Linked DNA regions of Homo sapiens: region 1 is linked to region 2. Evidence: fine-mapped expression QTL. A gene starts in region 2. The other region holds a variant in brackets. All regions are shown on one strand. Distances are between the middles of the regions.

The links.
Region 1: its variant is fine-mapped to the expression of C8orf33 in blood mononuclear cells (TOPMed, PIP 0.99).

The regions. Positions count from the first base shown.
Region 1 is chr8:145,016,775-145,026,819 of GRCh38, forward strand. It overlaps the pseudogene LOC124902043. Among named protein-coding and RNA genes, the nearest start is that of ZNF252P-AS1, 19 kb to the left of the region's middle. The variant T/C (reference allele first, on the strand shown) is at 4,627.
Region 2 is chr8:145,048,027-145,058,071 of GRCh38, forward strand. C8orf33 (chromosome 8 open reading frame 33) reads left to right here and starts at 4,441. Exons shown (of 5, transcript NM_023080.3): 1 at 4,441-4,471; 2 at 4,560-4,871; 3 at 5,036-5,120; 4 at 5,271-5,417; 5 at 5,992-8,004. The coding sequence starts at 4,466. The coding sequence ends at 6,131. It also overlaps the pseudogene LOC100419763. RefSeq lists enhancers at 3,867-3,996, 4,037-4,086, 5,015-5,815 and a silencer at 4,297-4,366.

The DNA of each region.
Region 1 (10,045 bases), 31 kb before region 2:
ACTAGCTCCTGGATTCATTGATTTTTTGAAGGGTTTTTTTGTGTTTCTATCTCCTTCAGTTCTGCTCTGATCTTAGTTATTTCCTGCCTTCTGCTAGCTTTTGAATGTGTTTGCTCTTGCTTCTCTAGTTCTTTTAATTGTGATGTTAGGGTGTCAATTTTAAATCTTTCCTGCTTTCTCTTATGGGCATTTAGTGCTATAAATTTCCCTCTACACACTGCTTTAATTGTGTCCCAGAGATTCTGGTATGTTGTGTCTTTTTTCTCATTGGTTTCAAAGAACATCTTTATTTCTGCCTTCATTTCGTTATGTACCCAGTAGTCATTCAGGAGCAGGTTGTTCAGTTTCCATGTAGTTGAGCGGTTTTAAGTGAGTTTCTTAATCCTGAGTTCTAGTTTGATTGCACTGTGGTCTGAGAGTTTGTTATAATGTCTGTTCTTTTACATTTTCTGAGGAGTGCTTTACTTCCAACTATGTGGTCAATTTTGGAATAAGTGCGATGTGGTGCTGAGAAGAATGTATATTCTGTTGATTTGGGGTGGAGAGTTCTGTAGATGTCTATTAGGTCTGTTTGTGCAGAGCTGAGTTCAATTCCTGGATATCCTTGTTAACTTTCTGTCCTGTGGATCTGTCTAATGTTGACAGTGGGGTGTTAAAATCTCTCATTATTATTGTGTGGGAGTCTAAGTCTCTTTGTGGGTCTCTAAGGACTTGCCTTATTAATCTGGTTGCTCCTGTATTGGGTGCATATATATTTAGGATAGTTAACTCTTCTTGATGAGTTGATCCCTTTACCATTATGTAATGGCTTTCTTTGTCTCTTTTGATCTTTGTTGTTTAAAGCCTGTTTTATCAGAGACTAGGATTGCAACCCCTGCTTTTTTTTGTTTTCCATTTGCTTGGTAGATCTTCCTCCATCCCTTTATTTTGAGCCTATGTGTGTCTCTGCACATGAGATGGGTCTCCTGAATACAGCACACTGATGGGTCTTGACTCTTTATCCAATTTGCCAGTCTGTGTCTTGTAATTGGAGCATTTAGCCCATTTACATTTAAGGTTAATATTGTTATGTGTGAATTTGATCCTGTCATTTTGAGTTAGCTGGTTATTTTGCTCATTAGTTGATGCAGTTTCTTCCTAGCATCGATGGTCTTTACAATTTGGCATGTTTTTGCAGTGGCTGGTACTGGTTTTTCCTTTCCATGTTTAGTGCTTCCTTCAGGAGCTCTTGTAAGGCAGGCCCAGTGGTGACAAAATCTCTCAGCATTTGCTTGTCTGTAAAGGATTTTATTTCTCCTTCACTTATGAAGCTTAGTTTGGCTGGATATGAAACTCTGGGTTGAAAATTCTTTGCTTTAAGAATGTTGAATATTGGCCTCCACTCTCTTCTGGCTTGTAGAGATTCTGCTGAGAGATCCACTGTTAGTCTGGTGGGCTTCCCTTTGTGGGTAACTCGACCTTTCTCTCTGGCTGCCCTTAACATTTTTTCCTTCATTTCAACTTGGGTGAATCTGACAATTATGTGTCTTGGAGTTGCTCTACTTGAGGAGTATCTTTGTGGCATTCTCTGTATTTCCTGAATTTGAATGTTGGCCTGCCTTGGTAGGTTGAGGAAATTCTCCTGGATAATATCCTGAAAACTGTTTTCCAACTTTGTTCCATTCTCCCCATCACTTTCAGGTACACCAATCAGATGTAGATTTGGTCTTTTCACATAGTCCCATATTTCTTGGAGGCTTTGTTCCATTTCTTTTTACTCTTTTTTCTCTAAACTTCTCTTCTCACATCATTTCATTCATTTGATCTTCAATCACTGATACCCTTTCTTCCAGTTGATTGAATCAGCTACTGAAGCTTGCACATGTAGTTCTCGTGCCATGGCTTTCAGCTCCATCAGGTCATTTAAGGTCTTCTCTACCCTGGTTATTCAGTTAGCCATTCGTCTAATCTTTTTTCAAGGTTTTTAGCTTCTTTGTGATGGGTTCAAACATCCTCCTTTAGCTCAGAGAAGTTTGATCATCTGAAGCTTTCTTCTCTCAACTCATCAAAGTCATTCTCCATCCAGGTTTGATCTATTGCTGGTGAGGAGCTGCATTCCTTTGGAGGAGAAGAGGTGCTCTGATTTTTAGAATTTTCAGCTTTTCTGCTCTGGCTTCTCCCCATCTTTGTGTTTTTATCTACCTTTTGTCTTTGATGATGGTCACGTACAGATGGGGTTTTGGTGTGGATGTACTTTTTGTTTGTTAGTTTTCCTTCTAATAGTCAGAACCCTCAGCTGCAGGTCTGTTGGAGTTTGCTGGAGGTCCACTCTAGATCCTGTTTGCCTGGATATGACCAGTAGAGGCTACAGAATAGCGAATATTGCAGAATAGCAAATGTTGCTGCCTGATCATTCCTCTGGAAGCTTCATCTCAGAGGGGTACCCGGCCGTGTGAGGTATCAGTCAGCCCCTACTGGGAGGTGCCTCCCAGTTAGGGTACTCAGGTGTCAGGGAGCCACTTGAGGAGGCAGTCTGTTTGTTCTCAGATCTCAAACTCCATGCTGGGAGAACCACTACTCTCTTCAAAGCTGTCAGACAGGGACATTTAAGTCTGCAGAAGATTCTGCTGCCTTTTGTTCAGCTATGCCCTGCACCCAGAGGTGGAGTCTGCAGAGGCTGGTAGGCCTCCTTGAGCTGCAGTGGGCTCCATCCAGTTCAAGCTTCCCAGCCGCTTTGTTTACCTACTGAAGTCTCAGCAATGGTGGGCGCCCCTCCCCCAGCCTTGCTGCCACCTTGCAGTTCGATCTCAGACTGCTGTGCTAGCAATGAGCAAGGCTCCATGGGTGTGGGACCCTCCAAGCCAGGTGTAGGAAATAATCTCCTGGTGTGCCATTTGCTAAGACCATTGGAACAGCACAGTATTAGGGTGGGAGTGACCCGATTTTCCAGGTGCCATCTGTCACAGCTTCCCTTGGCTAGGAAAGGGAATTCCCTGACCCCTTGCACTTCCCAGGTGAGGTGGTGCCTTGCCCTGCTTCAGGTCTCACTCGGTGGGCTGCACCCACTGTCCTGCACCCACTGTCTGACAAGCTCCAGTGAGATGAACCTGGTATTTCAGTTGGAAATGCAGAAATCACCTGTCTTCTGCATCGCTCATGCTGGGAGCTCTAGACTGGAACTGTTCCTATTTGGCCATCTTGGAACCTCCCATGTAGGTTACCATTTTTAGGGGTGGTCACTGTTGAGCCTCCAAGTCCTATTCCCTTAAAATGGAAGACCCAAAATCCTGTTTGGGTTGAGCTGTGGCCACTTACTCAGGAAAAATTGGGGGCCTTACAGGAATTAGTCAAAGAGCAATTAAACAAAGGAAGCATTGAGCCCACATTTTCTCCATAGAATTTGCCGGTGTTTGTAATAAAGAAAAAATCCAGCAGATGGCGCATGCTAACCGACTTACGTGTGGTGAACACATTCATTCAGCTGATTGGGGCCCTGCAGCTGGGGCTTCTATCCCCCACCATGATTCCTAGAGACTGGCCATTAGTAATTATAGATTTGAAGGATTGCTTTTTAAATATTCTTCTAGCAGAGTCTGATTTTGTGAAATTTGCTTTTACTATTCCTGCTATGAACAACAAGGAACCAGCAGCCAGATATCATTGGAAAGTCCTGCTGCAGGATATGTTGAATAGTCCTACTATTTGTCAAACTTTTGTGGGGAAGGCTATTCCACCTGTGAGAGATCAGTTTCCTGATTCATATATCATTCATTTTATGGATGACATATTGGGTACGGTCAAAAGTTAAGACTGACTTATCCAGTGTTATTCATATTTACAGGAGGTGGTAGCCAATGCTGGATTGCTCATAGCACCAGATAAAATTCAAACATCCACTCCTTTCCAATATTTGGGAATGCAGGATCAGGAAAGGGCAATTAGACCCCAAGAGGTTCAAATTCAAAAAGACTCTCTGAAAACTTTAAATGATTTTCAAAAATTATTAGGGGATATCAATTGGATTTGACCTCCTTTGGGAATCCCTACCTATGCTATGTCTAATCTGTTCTCTATTTTAAGAGGTGACCCTGCTCTCAATAGTAAATGAGAACTGACTCCTGAGACTGCCAAAGAATTACAAATGATTGAAGAAAAAATACAACAGGCCCAGGTTAATAGAATAGACTCAAATTTACCATTACAGTTCATTGTGTTCCCTACTCTCCATTCTTCTACAGGGGTTACAGTTCAGAGTGAGGACTTAGTTGAATGGTCTTTTCTGCCTCACAATACTGTTAGAACACTCACAGTATACTTGGATCAGATGGCAATCTTGATTGGGCAAGCTCACCTTAGAGTTGTTAAACTTTGTGGCTCAGATCCAGATAAGATTATAGTTCCAATGAATAAAAATCAGATTTGGAAAGCCTTTGTTAATTCAGTCAATTGGCAAATAGATTTAGCTGGCTTCATTGGAGTTCTTGATAATCTGAAGGGGTGGCCTGCCCCTCCACACCTGTGGGTATTTCTAGTCAGGTGGGATGGGAGACTGAGAAAAGAAATAAGACACAGTGACAAAGTATAGAGAAACAACAGTGGGCCCAGGAGAGCGGCACTCGGCACACCAAGGACCTGCACCGGCACCGG[T/C]CTCTGAGTTCCCTCAGTTTTTATTGATTATTATTTTCATGATTTCAGCAGAAAGGAATGTAGTAGGAGAGCAGGGTGATAATAAGGAGAAGGTCAGCAAAAAGCATGTGAGCAAAGGAATCTATGTCATAATTAAGTTCAAGGGAAAGTACTATGCCTGGATGTGCACATAGGCCAGATTTATGTTTCTCTCCACCCAAACATCTCAGTGGAGTAAAGAATAACAAGGCAGCATTGCTGCCAACATGTCTCACCTCCCACCATAGGGCGGTTTTTCTCCTATCTCAGAATTGAACAAATGTACAATCGGGTTTTATACCAAGACGTTCAGTTCCCAGGGGCAGGCAGGAGACAGTGGCCTTCCTCTATCTCAACTGCAAGAGGCTTTCCTCTTTTACCAATCCACCTCAGCACAGACCCTTTACGGGTGTCGGGCTGGGGGACAGTCAGGTCTTTCTCATCTCATGAGGCCATATTTCCGACTATCACATGGGGAGAAACCTTGGACGATACCCAGCTTTCAAGGGCAGAGTTCCCTGTGGGTTTCTGCAGTGCATTATGCCTGTGGTTTGTTGACACTAGAGAATGGCAATGACTTTTGCCAAGTATACTGCTTGTAAACATTTTGTTAACAAGGCACATCCTGCACAGCCCTAGATCCCTTAAACCTTGACTTCATACAACACATGTTTTTATGAGCTCCAGGTTGGGTCAAAGTGGCTGGGGCAAAACTACAAATTAACAACATCTGAGCAAAGCAATTGTTCAAAGTACAGGTCTTTTTCAAAATGGAGTCTCTTATGTCTTCCCTTTCTACATAGACACAGTAACAGTCTGATCTCTCTCTCTTTTCCCTACATATCCCCCTTTTCTTTTTGACAAAACCGCCATCATCATCATGGTCCGTTCTCGCTAGCCGCTGTCTCTCCGGAGCTGCTGGATACACCTGTAGACTAACAATAGAGAGGACAGACATACAAGGATTAATACAAAATTTGCAATAGTGGAATTTCCAATGGTTTTAACCCAAGTGACAGGTTTAAGATTCGTGAGGCTATCAACAGCTTTTTCCATTGCCTCAGTTTCTGGCACCAAATTTAACTGGGCTTTGGATGTTTTAAAAATTTGTTCTTTCAATTTTGAAATATCTAAAGTAAGATTATCTTCTCTTCCTTGTAGATGGCATCTAACCATGTCCCAGTGATGTTCAGATTCATTATAGGCTTGAGGTGTAATACAAAAATCTGATGTATTGTAGTCACACAGTAACTGAAAAAGATATTCCAAACTTATGAGCCTATCTCCCATCCAAATGACAGTTTGTCTAAGATCATTAATTTGATTTGCCAATTTTTGATCTATTTGAGTCTGAGAATTCCACAATTTTGAGGAATTCTTTTGCCAATTATTCACATATTCTGCAGTGTGAACAGAGGAGGGTAAAGCAATTACAGCAGCCCTAGCAGCAGCTGTGACTGCAATAAGACCCATAATCACTGCAATTAAAGTAAAAATGAATCTTTTAGATCTAGTTAGAACTCCTTTTAATACTTCTGTTAAGATATGTACGGATGGAGAAGCCTCCCACGGTCGGTCCATGGACACAGGGATCCTCGCACCCTCTCTTGCCCTCACTAACAGAATACGATGCTGCCAATCAAAAGTTGAATCAATGCAAGTAAACAATCTACAATTTTCACAGGTTATAGTTTGGGAATCTGGTTTAATAACTATGTTTCCTACAACTAGCATATGAGGGGGTTTTACATAACTTTGCAAAGGAATTGTCGGATTGGATTTTAGGTTAATAGTAAAATATGGTTTATGATTTCTTGTTCCCATAACTTGATTTCCAGACCAAATTCTAATGTGGTATGAGGCCACAGTGAGCTTCCATAATTCTGGGTGTTCAGGAGCAACAACAGGACTAACTAACTTTGGGCGGGGTGATGAAATCCCCTTTTCACCCCATTTCCATGGATAGGGTGATTCTAGCCTTCTATAAACCTGGTCTAGCCTTTTAGTTAAATCACTATCATAGGCCGGATTAGTGGGCCAGACTGATGGAGCCTGTGAACATGAGTGGGTCTGGCCTGTACTATCATAATATAATTGGCCTCAAGCGGCCCAGTTTATAATAGTTCCAAATTTATTGTTTTGTAATACCACCGCAGTATCAGCCACACATTCTTCCCAAACTAAGACTTCTGAGTCTTTTTATTCTTTTGGAATTTCCTTGGGGCAAGATTTTCCCTTAAGCCTAAATTTTAATGATCTTTTATAGGAAGAATCCTGTAAATTATTTATTTGTGACCCGAGTGACATTTCACTTACCTGTGATAAGTGAATTTACTGGTAGCACTGACAGTAGGTACTTCTACCAACCAATTTTGGTTTGTAGGCATTAAGCATCCCGGTGCTTTTCCCAGGCAAATAGGAGGATAATGATACCCAATGGAAATGTTTATCATCATTCCTTCTTCTTCAGGTTGGGCAGGGCCACGGTCATCTGTGGGGCCTGGTACCCATGCACTATTATTAACATATACTTCAATAGGATTATCTATCCAAGTGACTGCCCGAATTAAGGGTCGGAAAGGCACATAGGCCCAGTAAGTATAGTTAGCTGTAGCGGCTCCTGCAGACATAGGGAGACTTACCACCATTGATACAATCATTAAAGCTGCAAGCAGCATATTCTCTGGAGTTTGTGTTACCCTTGTGTTTTTCAGACTTTTTTCAGCTAACTGTGTCAGCTTCTTTAGCTGGGCCCAGGTTGGCGGCTCCGCTTTCTTGGTGGATGGCAACTTCATCTGTTCTTCTGATATCACCATTTTGTTCACCTGGTGGGTCGATGATGCTCAACTGCAGGTTTTTTGTCTCTGTGGAGGCACTTTTATTTGCATTTCTGATGGGATGGGTTTATTGTAGAACTTCAAATGTCTAGTGGGTATCCAAACAGGAAGCTGATTTTCTCCTGGTGAAACACAAGAAAAACCTCTCCCCCATGTTATCACCTTCCCTGTTTCCCAAGTTTTACTTTTGTTGTCTTTCCACCAAATCAGTTTTCCCTCATGTGGGCTGTTCTTTTTACCAGTAAAATGTTGTTCTGCAGAAGTAGTGGTCTGATTTCTATAAATGTTTAAAAAATTTAAAGTATAGGGTGCTAGATTAAGTTCATCTGGGAAGTGTTATACTCCTTACTGTCTTTTTCCCTTTTTTGTTTAACCAATTGAGCTTTGAGTGTTCTATTAGTTCTTTCAATTATGGCCTGTCCTTGGGAATTATAAGGGATTCCTGTTGTATGTGTAATTTTCCACTGATTTAAGAATTTTTGAAATGCTTTACTACAGTATCCTGGCCCATTATCTGTTTTAATTTTTTCTGGAACTCCCATGACAGCAAAATAAGATAATAAATGTATTTTAACATGGGAAGTACTTTCTCCTGTCTGGCAGGTTGCCCATATGAAATGTGAATAAGTATCAACTGTCACGCGGACAAATGACAATTTTCCAAATGAAGGTACATGTGTGACATCCATTTGCCATAATGCATTAGGACATAAATCTCTGAGATTAACTCCTGCCTCCTGAGTGGGCAGGTGTAAGACTTGACACTGAGCACAATGTTGTACAATATTTTTTGCCTGTTTCCATGTGATATCAAATTTATTTTTTAATCCTGTTGCATTTACATGAGTCAGGACATGAAGTTCTTGTGCTTCCATCAAGGCAGATGATACTAGCAAGTCAGCTTGTTCATTTTCCTTAGTTAATTGCCCTGGTAAATTAGTATGTGCTCGAATATGAGTAATATAAACTGGGAAATTTCTTTTTCTTACAGTTTGTTGTAACAATTTAAACAGATGATTTAACTGATAATCCATACTATATTTGATTAGAGCTTTGTAGCCTTTGTAGCCTGTACTATATATGCAGAATCTGAAACAATGTTAATAGGCTGATTAAAATCTTGTAACACTGAAGTGACAGCAACCAATTCTGCTCTTTGAGCTGAGTGATATTGAGTTTCAATGACTCATTCTTTTGGCCCAGTGTAAGCCACTTTTCCATTGCTGAAACCATCAGTAAACACTGTCAGAGCATTTTCTAAAGGTTTTTGTCTGGTAATTTTAGGTAAAATCCAAGTAGTCAATTTTAAAAACTGGAAGATTTTTGTTTCTGGGTAATGATTATCAATAATTCCCACAAAATCAGCTAGACCAATCTGCCATGCAGCAGAATTGATAAAGGCTTGTCTAACCTGTTCCTTGTTTAAAGGAACAATGATTTTATCTGGGTCACTTCCACACAATTTTACTATTCGTAGTCTTGTCTGACCAATTAATGTAGCCATTTGATCTAAGTACAATGTAAAAGTCTTAACTGTACTGTGAGGAAGGAATGACCACTCCACAAGATCTGTATTTTGAACAATAATGCCTGTTGGAGAATGTGCAGTAGCAAAAATCAAAAATTGGAGTGGGGCTAAGTGATCTATTCTATTTACTTGTGCTGAATTAATTTTTTCTTCAACTAATTCAATTTCTTTAGTTGCCTCTGGAGTTATTGTTCTTTTACCATTCAAGTCTGGATCCCCTCTCAAGATAGAAAACAAATTTGACATGGCATAAGTAGGAATGCCTAGAGTTGGCCCAATCCAATTAATATCTCCTAGCAATTTTTGAAAGTCATTTAATGTTCTTAATGTGTCTTTTCTTATTTCTATTTTTTGTGGTTTAATTTTTCTTTCCTCTACCTGCATTCCCAAATAATTAAAAGGAGTGGAGGTCTGAATCTTATCAGATGCTATTGTCAGGCCTGTGTTTGCAACCTCTGTCTGCAGAAACATGTAAAAGTCAATTAATTTGTCTCTTGTTTCTGCAGCACACAAAATATCATCAACATAATGAATGATATAACAGTCTGAAAACTGTCTCTAACTGGTTCCTGGGTCCTGAATCTTTTCCCAGGCCCTGAGGCAAATAGCCCCTAGTTGTTCAATAGCCTCATTTTGCATTACTGATTGTTGGTTAATAGTGCTCCAATTTGGACGTGTTCCTAGCAATTGGTCTGCATCTATATTAACAACAGGATAAGTAGCCTGATTTTTCCGTACCTGTTCTTGTACTCCATCAATCCACCAGGTTTTAAACTGTAGATACTGAGAGGGTGAAAGGGAAGATTTAGGTAAAATTTCCCAATCATAAGGAATAAGTCTATTTCCATGAGCAATGGAATCTAATAACGTTCTCATATAAGGAGAGTTGGGTCCATATTGTTTAGCTCCTTCCTTTATGTCTTTTAACATTTTCATGGTGAAATATTCTTACCTAGCCTCCGTTCGGACAGACGCTCCTGCTTGACTCCCTTTCCTGGCCCTTTCCCGGCCGGTATCGGTTGTAACATTACCGGAT
Region 2 (10,045 bases):
GTATGTAATTACTGTGGAAGAGCTTTCCATTCAAAATCACACCTTATTCAGCAGCAGATAATTCACAGTAGAGAAAAGGCCCGTGAATGCAATCAATGTGGAAAGCCTTCAATTGGAGCTCAGCACTTGCTAAAAATCAGATAATTAACACTGGAGTGAAACCTAATGGATGTAATGAATGTGGGAAAACTTTCATCCAGAGTTTAAATCTTATTCTGTCAGAGTTCATGCTGAGAGAAACCATATGAATGTAAATGAATGTGGAAGAGCCTTTAGTTACAGGTCACACCTTATTTCACATCATAGGATCCACACAGGAAATAAGCCATATGAATGCAAGGAATTTGGCAAAAATTCCCATCCAAATTTGTACCTTATTTGACATCAGGATATTCATCACAGAGAGAAATTACAGGAGTGTAATGAATGTGGGAAGGTGTTTGGTCAGAATCCAACCCTTGTTATACATCAGCAGATTCACATTGGAATGAAATCTGATAACTACAGTAAATGTAGGAAAGTTTTTTTGTAGATTCATAGCCCCTGCAGAACCTAAGGCAGTTCCAGGTAAAGAGAAACCCTATGGGTACAGTGAATATGGGAAGACCATACAGAATTCATACCACTTTCTGGATCAAAAAGAATCAAAGAAGAGACAAAGCCTATGAATCTCATGCATGTGCAAAAACCTTATATTATGTGTCAAAACTTATTAAGTATCAGGGTATGTAGTCTTTAATAGTTTAGAGCCTGTTCAGTAGCAGAAAATCCACTCTATCAATAAACTTTATGAACATAAATACTGTGACAAAGTCTTCAGGCTAATTTTAAGTTTAAAAAATCAGGCTTTATCATAGAAAAAAATGAGAAAAAAATAAAAGTAAAATGTGATCCAAACTTGTAATTATGTTAATGGAGACACAGTATATATAAACATATTTAGATATATGTTTTCTTTCTTTCTTTTTTCTTTTTTTTTTTTGAGACTAGGTCTTTCTCTGTCACCCAGGCTGGAGGGTGGTCGTAGAATTTTGGCTCACTGCAACATCCGCCCCTGCACCATCCCCCTTCCCACCGCTGCCCAAAGCAATCCTCCTGCCTCAGCCTCCCAAGTAGCTGGGACCACAACCGGCTAATTTTTTAAATTTTTTGTAGAGACCATGTTGCCCAGGCTGGTCTCAAACTCCTGGGCTCAGGCAATCTGCCTGCCTTGGCCTCTCAAAGTGCTGGGATTATATGCGGAGCCACTGTGCCCAGCCTGGATATCTGTTTTCTTAAACTGTGTCCTTCAAGGTCAGGGTACTTCTCTTGTTCTTTCACCGTACCCATCCCATTGCCTTATTCATTCAGCCCCTTAATAAATATTTTGGTGTGATTTGCTAACTATGGAAAAATCTTTTCTGAAGACTCATGTTTCCTGCCACAAGAGGAACCATAGAAAATATAGCACTGGAAAGGCAACAGTTCAAATCCAAGGTTATTCATGATTACATCAACCTACAATTACTGTGCAGCCCCTATGTGCCTGGTAGTGTGCCTGACAATGGCAAATCAGAGATGCAGAAACACTTGGCCTCTTTTCCTCATATCTCTCAGTCTAGTTGGGATACAAAGGTATGTAGAGACAGATAACCACATCAGTACAGTAATAGAGGTAAGAATACAGGGTTGAGTGGGGTCCCAGAGGTGGGAGAGGTCTACAGAGATGGCTCATTTTCAAAATTCTGAGAGACAATAACTGTTAACCTCAAATTGTGTTTCTATCCAAACTATCCTCCAGGAATTAGAATAAAAATAGGCATTTTCAGATGAGCAAAACCCAAAACACCATAACAGATTTCATTAAAGGAGCTTTAAAAGGATGTACATTTAAAGAAATGATATCAGAACTGAGATATAAGGAATGATGCCAGGCATGGGAGGCTGAGGTGGGAAGATTGCTTGAGCCCAGGAGTTCAAGACCAGCCTGGGCATCCTGGTGAGACCCCATCTCTACAAAAAATTACAAAATTAGCTGGTATGATGGTGCATGCCTGTGGTCCCAGCTACTTGGGAGGCTGAGGCAGGAGGGAGGATCAGTTGAGCCCAGGACAACCTAGGTGACAGAGTGAGACATGGACTCTAAGAAAAACAAAAGTTGTATATTTGAAAACACTGACTGTAAATAGAATTAAGTCTAATATGGCAGATTTAAAAACAAAGATAGAAATGAAGTCAAGACAAAAATAGCATATGAGTCAGGAAGGTAATGGATAAAATCAGAGCATTGAAAGTGAGGCAGGATAGGTAGTCAAGGAAGTAACCATGTCCTCGGGATGCAGCAACTGTTGTGACTGTGCAATCAGCACAATAAGCCTCTGCCTTCACATTGTGGTTAAGCTCTTTCAAGCAAAACTATCTTCAGTAGAGAATTTCCCCTGCAAAGAGCATGTACATTTTGATTTTACCTGTCCTCAGACTGACCTTTCGCTCATTATAATAGTAAAAAACAGAGCCCTGGTTGGAGGTTTAAGATGCTAATAAGACATGTGACATGTACGAACAATCATATACCAGCATGTAGAACAAGCATTGTATGACAAGAAGCATTGTATGAACAAGCATGTAAGAACATACAGCTACCGCACATGTGCACTCAGAGGACCATCCAGAACATACTCACTAGTAGCACCTCTTCCCAATTCCTTATGAATAATCATGTAAGACCCCCATAAAGGGAGTCTCCCTCATGCGTCTTTGCTGCCCCAACCTTATGAGCAGCTGGCCCTCAATCCTCTCTCTCTCTCTCAGGGTGTACTGTCTATTGTTCACTTAACTTTCCAAATATTCTTTCTCCTTTGTAATAAATTACTGTATGCCGCATCTCCTTTACTGCGTGTCCCGTTTAAATTCTGCGTGTTTTTTTTTTTTTTTTTTTTTTAGATGGAGTCTCGCTCTGTCACCCAGGCTGTAGTGCAGCGGTGCGATCTTGGCTCACTGCAAGCTCCACCTCCCGGGTTCATGCCATTCTCCTGCCTCAGCCTCCCGAGTAGCTGGGACTACAAGTGCCCGCCACTATGCCCGGCTAATTTTTTGGTATTTTTTAGTAGAGACGGGGTTTCACTATGTTAGCCAGGATGGTCTCAAACTCCTAACCTCGTGATCCGCCCGCATCGGCCTCCCAAAGTGTTGGGATTACAGGCGTGAGTCACCGCGCCCGGCCAATCCGCCGAATTTTGGGAGTAATGTATCACACTGCAGTAAATAACTATCAGTGATGACCAAACTGTAACCCTTCGAGACCTTGCAGACCAGGCAGCTAACACTTCCCACCCCACCGTCTCAGGAAACACCGCTTTCCACTCCTGTGTCCCCGAAAGGAATCATCAGACATCTCGGACTCTTACCTTCTCAAGCAACACAACCCACCCTCCTGGCATAGCCCGTTGCCCCCCTGAAACCCTACTCAGCCTCACCTCAACCCCTACGCAATTCCTCTCGGTTGTCATGCCTCCATCGGCGGGGGTCGAGTGTTGTGTGTGACCCCAGGTCTCTAGCAAGGTATAGTGGGAGGGAAGCATCCAGGGGAAGAGAGGTGGTGGGATGGGGCTCTCCCTCTCCCCCATACCGCCACCCTCCCTCACGTCCATATCCTGTCCAAGGCTCTTCCCGCGTCTGCTTCTGAAACCCCTCCACGTCCCTCCACCCCATGTGCCCCACTCGTTACACAAGAGCAGAGAGATCTGCAGAACATACGTCTACGATTATGCCACTCTTCAGATTTACATCTTGCAGCGACTTCCCACTGCGTTAGAACGGAAGTAAGCCCATGACGGGGGCCCTCCCAACTCTCAGACCTCACCCGAGCCTCCACGTCCCGAGACGCCGGCCTCTCAAACGACCGCGCCCTGACCCTCGCTCTTCCCCATTTCCCAGGGTCTTTGCCGACCACCCTCTTGCGCCGTAGCTGCTCACGTGCTGTTTACTTGCTTTTCCCTCCCCACCAAAAGGTGAGCCTTGAGAAGACACACCCTCGTGGAGAGCTTTGAACTTTTATCCGGAAAGGTGCCGGGCACGTAGTCAGCGCCCGCGATCACTCGCTCACAAGGGTTCTTCCGAGACCCCTCTTCAGCCTCTTCCCCGAACCCCCAGGCCCCGCCCCAGCCCCATCTCAGCTTCGTCCCAGGCGCGTCCCAGCTTCGCCCCGTCCCAGCTTCATCCCACCCCAGCCGCGCCCCGCCCCGCCCGCTCCCCGCCCCGCCCGCGCCCCGCCCGCGCCCCGCCCCGCCCGCGCCCCGCCCGCGCCCCGCCCGCGCCCCGCCCGCGCCCCGCCCGCGCCCCGCCCGCGCCCCGCCCGCGCCCCGCCCGCGCCCCGCCCGCGCCCCGCCCGCGCCCCGCGGAACCTAGAGTCGCAGGCGCGTTCTTGAAGGACGGAATTCGGCGTCGGACTCTGCGCCCCGCGTAGTTCCGGTGGCGACTGCGGCGCATGGCGGTGAGCGGTGTGGAGAAGACGCGCGGGTGGCTGGGCCTTGCATTGTTGGCGGCTCTCGGTGACCCTCGTGCTACCCCCCTTTCTCCAGGCCCTGGGACATCTTGCTGGGGAGGCAGCGGCGGCCCCAGGCCCGGGTACTCCCTGCGCGTCCCGCGGAGCCCGGCTTCCCGGCCCAGTTTCCAGCGCCCGGAATCCTTCCACTGTCTGTCTCTGCCCAGAGCAACCTACGTGCAGTAACGCTGACTCCAGAGCGCACCCGTTGGGCGATGAAGGCGGCACAGCGTCGAAAAAACAAAAGAATAAGAAGAAAACGCGGAACAGGGCCTCTGTGGCAAATGGAGGCGAGAAGGCCTCAGAGAAACTCGCCCCAGAAGAAGTTCCCCTAAGCGCTGAGGCCCAGGCAAGGGCGGGCTTCGGTCGGGAAGGGTGGAATCCACGGGTGCGAATCCACGGGCACGTGTGATCTGGGGTCCGCGGAGTTAAGGCGGGGAGGGGCATGGGATGGGGCCGGCGGCTATGGTTTTCCAGTGCCCTCTCACAGCCACTTCCCCAAATCCATCACAGGCACAACAGTTGGCCCAGGAATTGGCTTGGTGTGTGGAGCAACTGGAGCTGGGCCTCAAGAGGCAGAAACCCACCCCGAAACAGAGTAAGGGACCCTTCTGTAGAGCTGGGGGATGTGAACAGTGGCACTGCCTGGCCTGCAGGTGCTGGCAGAGTATGGAGTTGTTGGCTTTGCGGCGGGGTGGTAGGAGGTCAGTAATAGAGGTGTTCACTAGTCCTTTATTTTTATTCGCAGAAGAGCAGGCTATTGGAGCAATCCGAACCCTGCGCAGCAAAAGAACGCCCTTGCCCCGGAAGAGGCAGCTGATGCACTCCTTGTTTGGAGACTATAGGGCTCAGATGGAAGCCGAATGGCGTGAGGCCCTGCGGGCTCTCAGAGCTGGTGAGGAGCTAGCCACTGGTTGATTCAGGAAGGCCTAACTTAAGGAGGAAGTGTCTAGGGGGTGAAAGGAAGAAGGCCCAGAGCAACAAGCCTGGTGGGGGAAGGAGATGGGCTCAGGGAAGCCTGAGGGAGCAGGGAAACAGAAAGCGTGGACCTCTCTTTCCTCTTCCTAGGACTGAACCTGGGAAGCAGCGGGGAGGCCCTGGGAGGAGTGGGAAAGAGCATGGTCCTATGTTGGTCCTGCTCCTGGGTTGGGGAAAGCTGCCTCATGTCTTTGTGTCTTGGCTTTCTCTACTAGCAATGAAGCCATATCCCATAACAGTTTGAGTGCAATTCCTGGGGCCAGATCAGCTAGGTTCAAATCCTGGATCTACCACATAGTAGTACTAACACCTTTTGCAAACTACTGAACCTCTCTAAGTGGGGGATGATAGTAATATCAACCTTACAAATTTGAGGAATTAATCAGTTAATTTATGCAAGGTGGTTAGAATTGTATGGGCAAACATAACTGTACAGGTAATGTTAATTGTTATTATTCAGTTCTGACATACGCTGCTTCTCTCCCCGACAGCTGCTTATTCAGCCCAGGTGCAACCTGTAGATGGAGCCACCAGAAAGAAGAGCCAAAGGGTCTGCAGGCCTCGCTCTATATGGAGAGCCAAAGCCACTCTGGACATGCCTGATGAAGAGTTTAGGTTCAATTTCTTTTAGCGTCTCCCCGAACCTGAAACAATCCCCCTCCCTTGGGGTGGTGTAGGGGTTTGTTTTGAGTGCAGAGCCTTTCCAGGACTTCTGTTGTCAGAGAACCCTGGAGTTGGTCTGTCCCTGGCTGGTCCAAGGATTTGTAGCTGTTGTGAAGGTGTGAGACCATCAGATAGGCAAAAGACCCCGTTCGTTTTCTGATGAAATGTTCTCTCTTTCAGAAGAGAGAGAGAGGTGCATTTAGAAAATATGCAATAAATTGAAGTGAGTGTTCAAAGTATTGTAGAAGGAATATTGTACTCAGTCTTTAGGATTAGATTAAGTGGCTGTTGGTAACAAAGATTAGTGGAGAAGCTGTATAATCGTACACTGGTTTTCACTTTTGAAAGGAATCCCTGTCAAATGGTTTAGTGCTTAATGCTGTTATGTCATATTGCCCTAATCTCTATTTTTGATAAAATTGGATAAGGAGTGAAAGAGTATGCTGACCACCTATGTTAGAGGAAGTACAGAAGATGCAGGGGTGTGGTATCCCTGGGTCCAGTCCCTCACCTGGTACCTTTGTGCATGTTGCCTTCATTCCTGAGCAGGTATCATCCTCAGGGAACCAGCATGGCACCTACCAGGCCAGGCTCTGTTCTTAGGAGCAAGGAGCTTCTTGCGCTAACAGTTCTGGCCTGAGACCTGGATTGAGCCTTGGCAGACTTCTTGTCTAAATGTTGGCCATTCAGTCTCAGGCCCTCTGTTCCATGGAATTGGGAATCTCCAGGTGACCTAATCCTCATTGGTGGCTTGATGTTTGCTGGTATCTTCCAAACTCAGTTCCCAGACTAGATTGATACCTGGAGCCCAGCTGCCTACTCAGCATTTCCACTTGGGTGCTTCATAGGCATTTCAAACCTGATGTGTTTAAAACACTTGATTAGGCTCCGGTTTTCCTTTGGCTTCTGCTTTTCAGTGAATGGCATGACTGCCTATGTGGGTGGCAAGCCACCCAGGTGCCGAGGAAAGAGACTGAGGGCACGAGCTGTTCCAGTATAATAAAATATATAAAATAAGAAGAGTTATACTAGATCTAGATCATAGACATGATTATATGTGAGTATCATTAATCATTAGTTTATAGCAATTACTCTTTATTCCAATATTATAATAATCCTCACTCTACAATCATAACCTAGGAAAAACCAGGCCATACAGAGATAGGAGCCGAGGGGACATAGTGCGAAGTGGCCAGAAGACAAGAGTGTGAGCCTTCTCTTATGCCCGGACAGGGCCACCAGAGGGCTTGGTCTAGCAGTAACACCAGTGTCTGGGAAGATGCCTGTTGCAAAGTGGACCATGGTCTAGCAGTAGCATCAGTGTCAAGGAAAAACACCCACTACTTAGCAGACTGGGAAAAGGAGCCTCCCTTTCCCCGGGGGAGTTTAGAGAAGACTACTCCTCCACCTCTTGTGGAGGGCCTGACATCAGTCAGGCCCGCCCGCAGTTATCCAGAGGCCTGTCTCCCTGTGATGCTGTGCTTCAGTGGTCACGCTCCTAGTCCGCTTTCATGTTCCATCCTGTATACCTGGCTCTGCCTTTTAGATAGCAGGAGCAAATTAGTGAAAGTACTAAATGTCTGATATGCAGAAATAATGGCATAAGCTGTCTCTCTCTCTTCTCTCTCTCTCTGCCTCTGCTGCCAGGCAGGGAAGGGCCCCCTGTCCAGTGGACACATGACCCATGTGACCTTACCTATTATTGGAGATGGTTCACATTCCTTACCCTGCCCCTTTGTCTTATATCCAATAAATATCAGTGCAGCCTGGCATTTGGGGCCACTACTGGTCTCCGCGTCTTGGTGGTAGTGGTCCCCCAGGCCCAGGTGTCTTTTCTTTTATCTCTTTGTCTTGTGTCTTTATTTCTACAATCTCTCATCTCTGCACATGGGGAGAAAACCCACTGACCCTGTGGGGCTGGACCCTACATCTGGCGCTCTGATGTGGGGCTCTCCCTCGCTGTGTGAGGTTGCACTCTGAGTGCGGGATTCAGCGGAGGATTTTGACAAGAGATTCCTGAGGATTGCTGTTAGTAAGCTTGGTGGTAAGCTTGAGCACTCAGAGTATTCTGGGGACACCATGGTACAAGCCAGTACTAAGTACTCAGCTTATTTAAATTTTATAAAAACTCTTCTTAAAGAAGGAGGGGTTTAAGTTTCTACTGAAAAGTTAATTGAACTATTTGCGGTTGTAAATCTTCTTTGCCCTTGGTTTCCGACTGAGGGAACTTGAGAACTTAAAGATTGGGATGAGATCGGCCAACAATTCAAAATTGCTCATAAAGGGGGACATTTTATTCCACCCACCATTTGGTCAATCTGGGCTTCGGTTCGCTCTGTCCTAGACTCCTTACAGACTCAGGACAGCATGGAGACTGATCCCTCTTTCCTCTCCCTGAGGAGGGCGAGGAATTTCTCACTTCTCTTTCCCCTGAGGATACTGCACAAATTGAGACCATAATTTCACAGGCGGAATTCCACTCTGACATGCCTGTGCCGCCACCACGTATGCAAGAGGCTACCGCACCCCCGTTGTCGCTTTATGATGATCTTTTAACTGACCCGAATGAACTTATTTCCCCCAACCAGCAAAACTCAGCTGAAACATGCCAACAACCATTGTGGACGCACCCCCCTGCTTCTCCTCACCCTGTCAACGCTGCCACCCTGCAGACAGAGGATGAGATCAGGCAGCCTGAAAACGAGGCTATAAATTGTTTCCATGCAGCCCGGTACAGAGGCTCTGATACCTGAACAGCCCGGAGAGGAGGCTTTCAATTCTCGGCCAGGTAATGAGGCCCGCAACGATATCCCTCCACAGCCTGGTTTTCTCATGCCTGGTCTTTTCCCCCCAATCAGACTCCGGTAGAACCACAGGCTCCCTTCAGGCCTGGTTCCTTTACTCCTAATCAGACTCGCTTAGAGTCATAGGCTCCCTTGAGACCTGGTTCTTTTCCTCCTACTCAGACTCGGCAAGAGTCACAGGCTGCCTTGAAGCCTGGTTCCTTTCCTCCTAATCAGACTTGGCTAGAATCACAGGCTCCCTTGAAGCCAGGTTCTCTTTCTCCTAATCAGACGTGGGTAGAGTCACAGGCTCCCTTGAAGCCTGGCTGCTTTCCTCCTATTCAGACTCAGTTAGAGTCACATGCTCCCTTGAGGCGTGGTTCCTTTCCTACTATTCAAATTCGGTTAGAGTCACAGGCTCCCTTGAGGCCTGGTTCCTTTCCTCCTACACAGACTCGGCTAGAGCCACAGGCTCCCTTGAGTCCTGGTTCCTTTCCTCCTAGTCAGACTCAGAGTCACAGGCTCCATTAAAGTCACAGGCTCCCTTGAGGCCTGATTCCTCCTAATCAGACTCAGTTAGAGTCACATGCTCCCTTGAGGTGCTGTTCCTTTCCTCCTACTCAGACTCAGAGACACAGGTTCCCTTGAGTCCTGGTTCCTTTCCTCCTAATCAGTCTCCATTAGAGTCACAGGATCCCTTGAGGCCTGGTTCCTTTTCTCCTAATCAGACTGGGTTAGAGTCACAGGCTCCCTTGAGGCCTGGTTCCTTTCCTTCTACTCAGACTCGGTTAGAATCACAGGCTCTGTTAAAGTCACAGGCTCTCTTGAGGCCTGGTTCCTTTCCTCCTAATGAGACTCGGTTAGAGTCACAGGCTCCCTTGAGGCACTGTTCCTTTCCTACTACTGAGACTCAGTTAGAGTCACAGGCTCCCTTGAAGCCAGGTTCTTTTCCTCATAATCAGACTCAGGTAGAGTCACAGGCTGCTTTGAATCCTGGTTGCTTTCCTCCTAATCAGACTTGTTTAGAGTCACAGGCTCCTTCAAGGCGTGGTTCGTTTCCTGCTACTCAGACTCAACAAGAGTCACAGGCTCCCTTGAG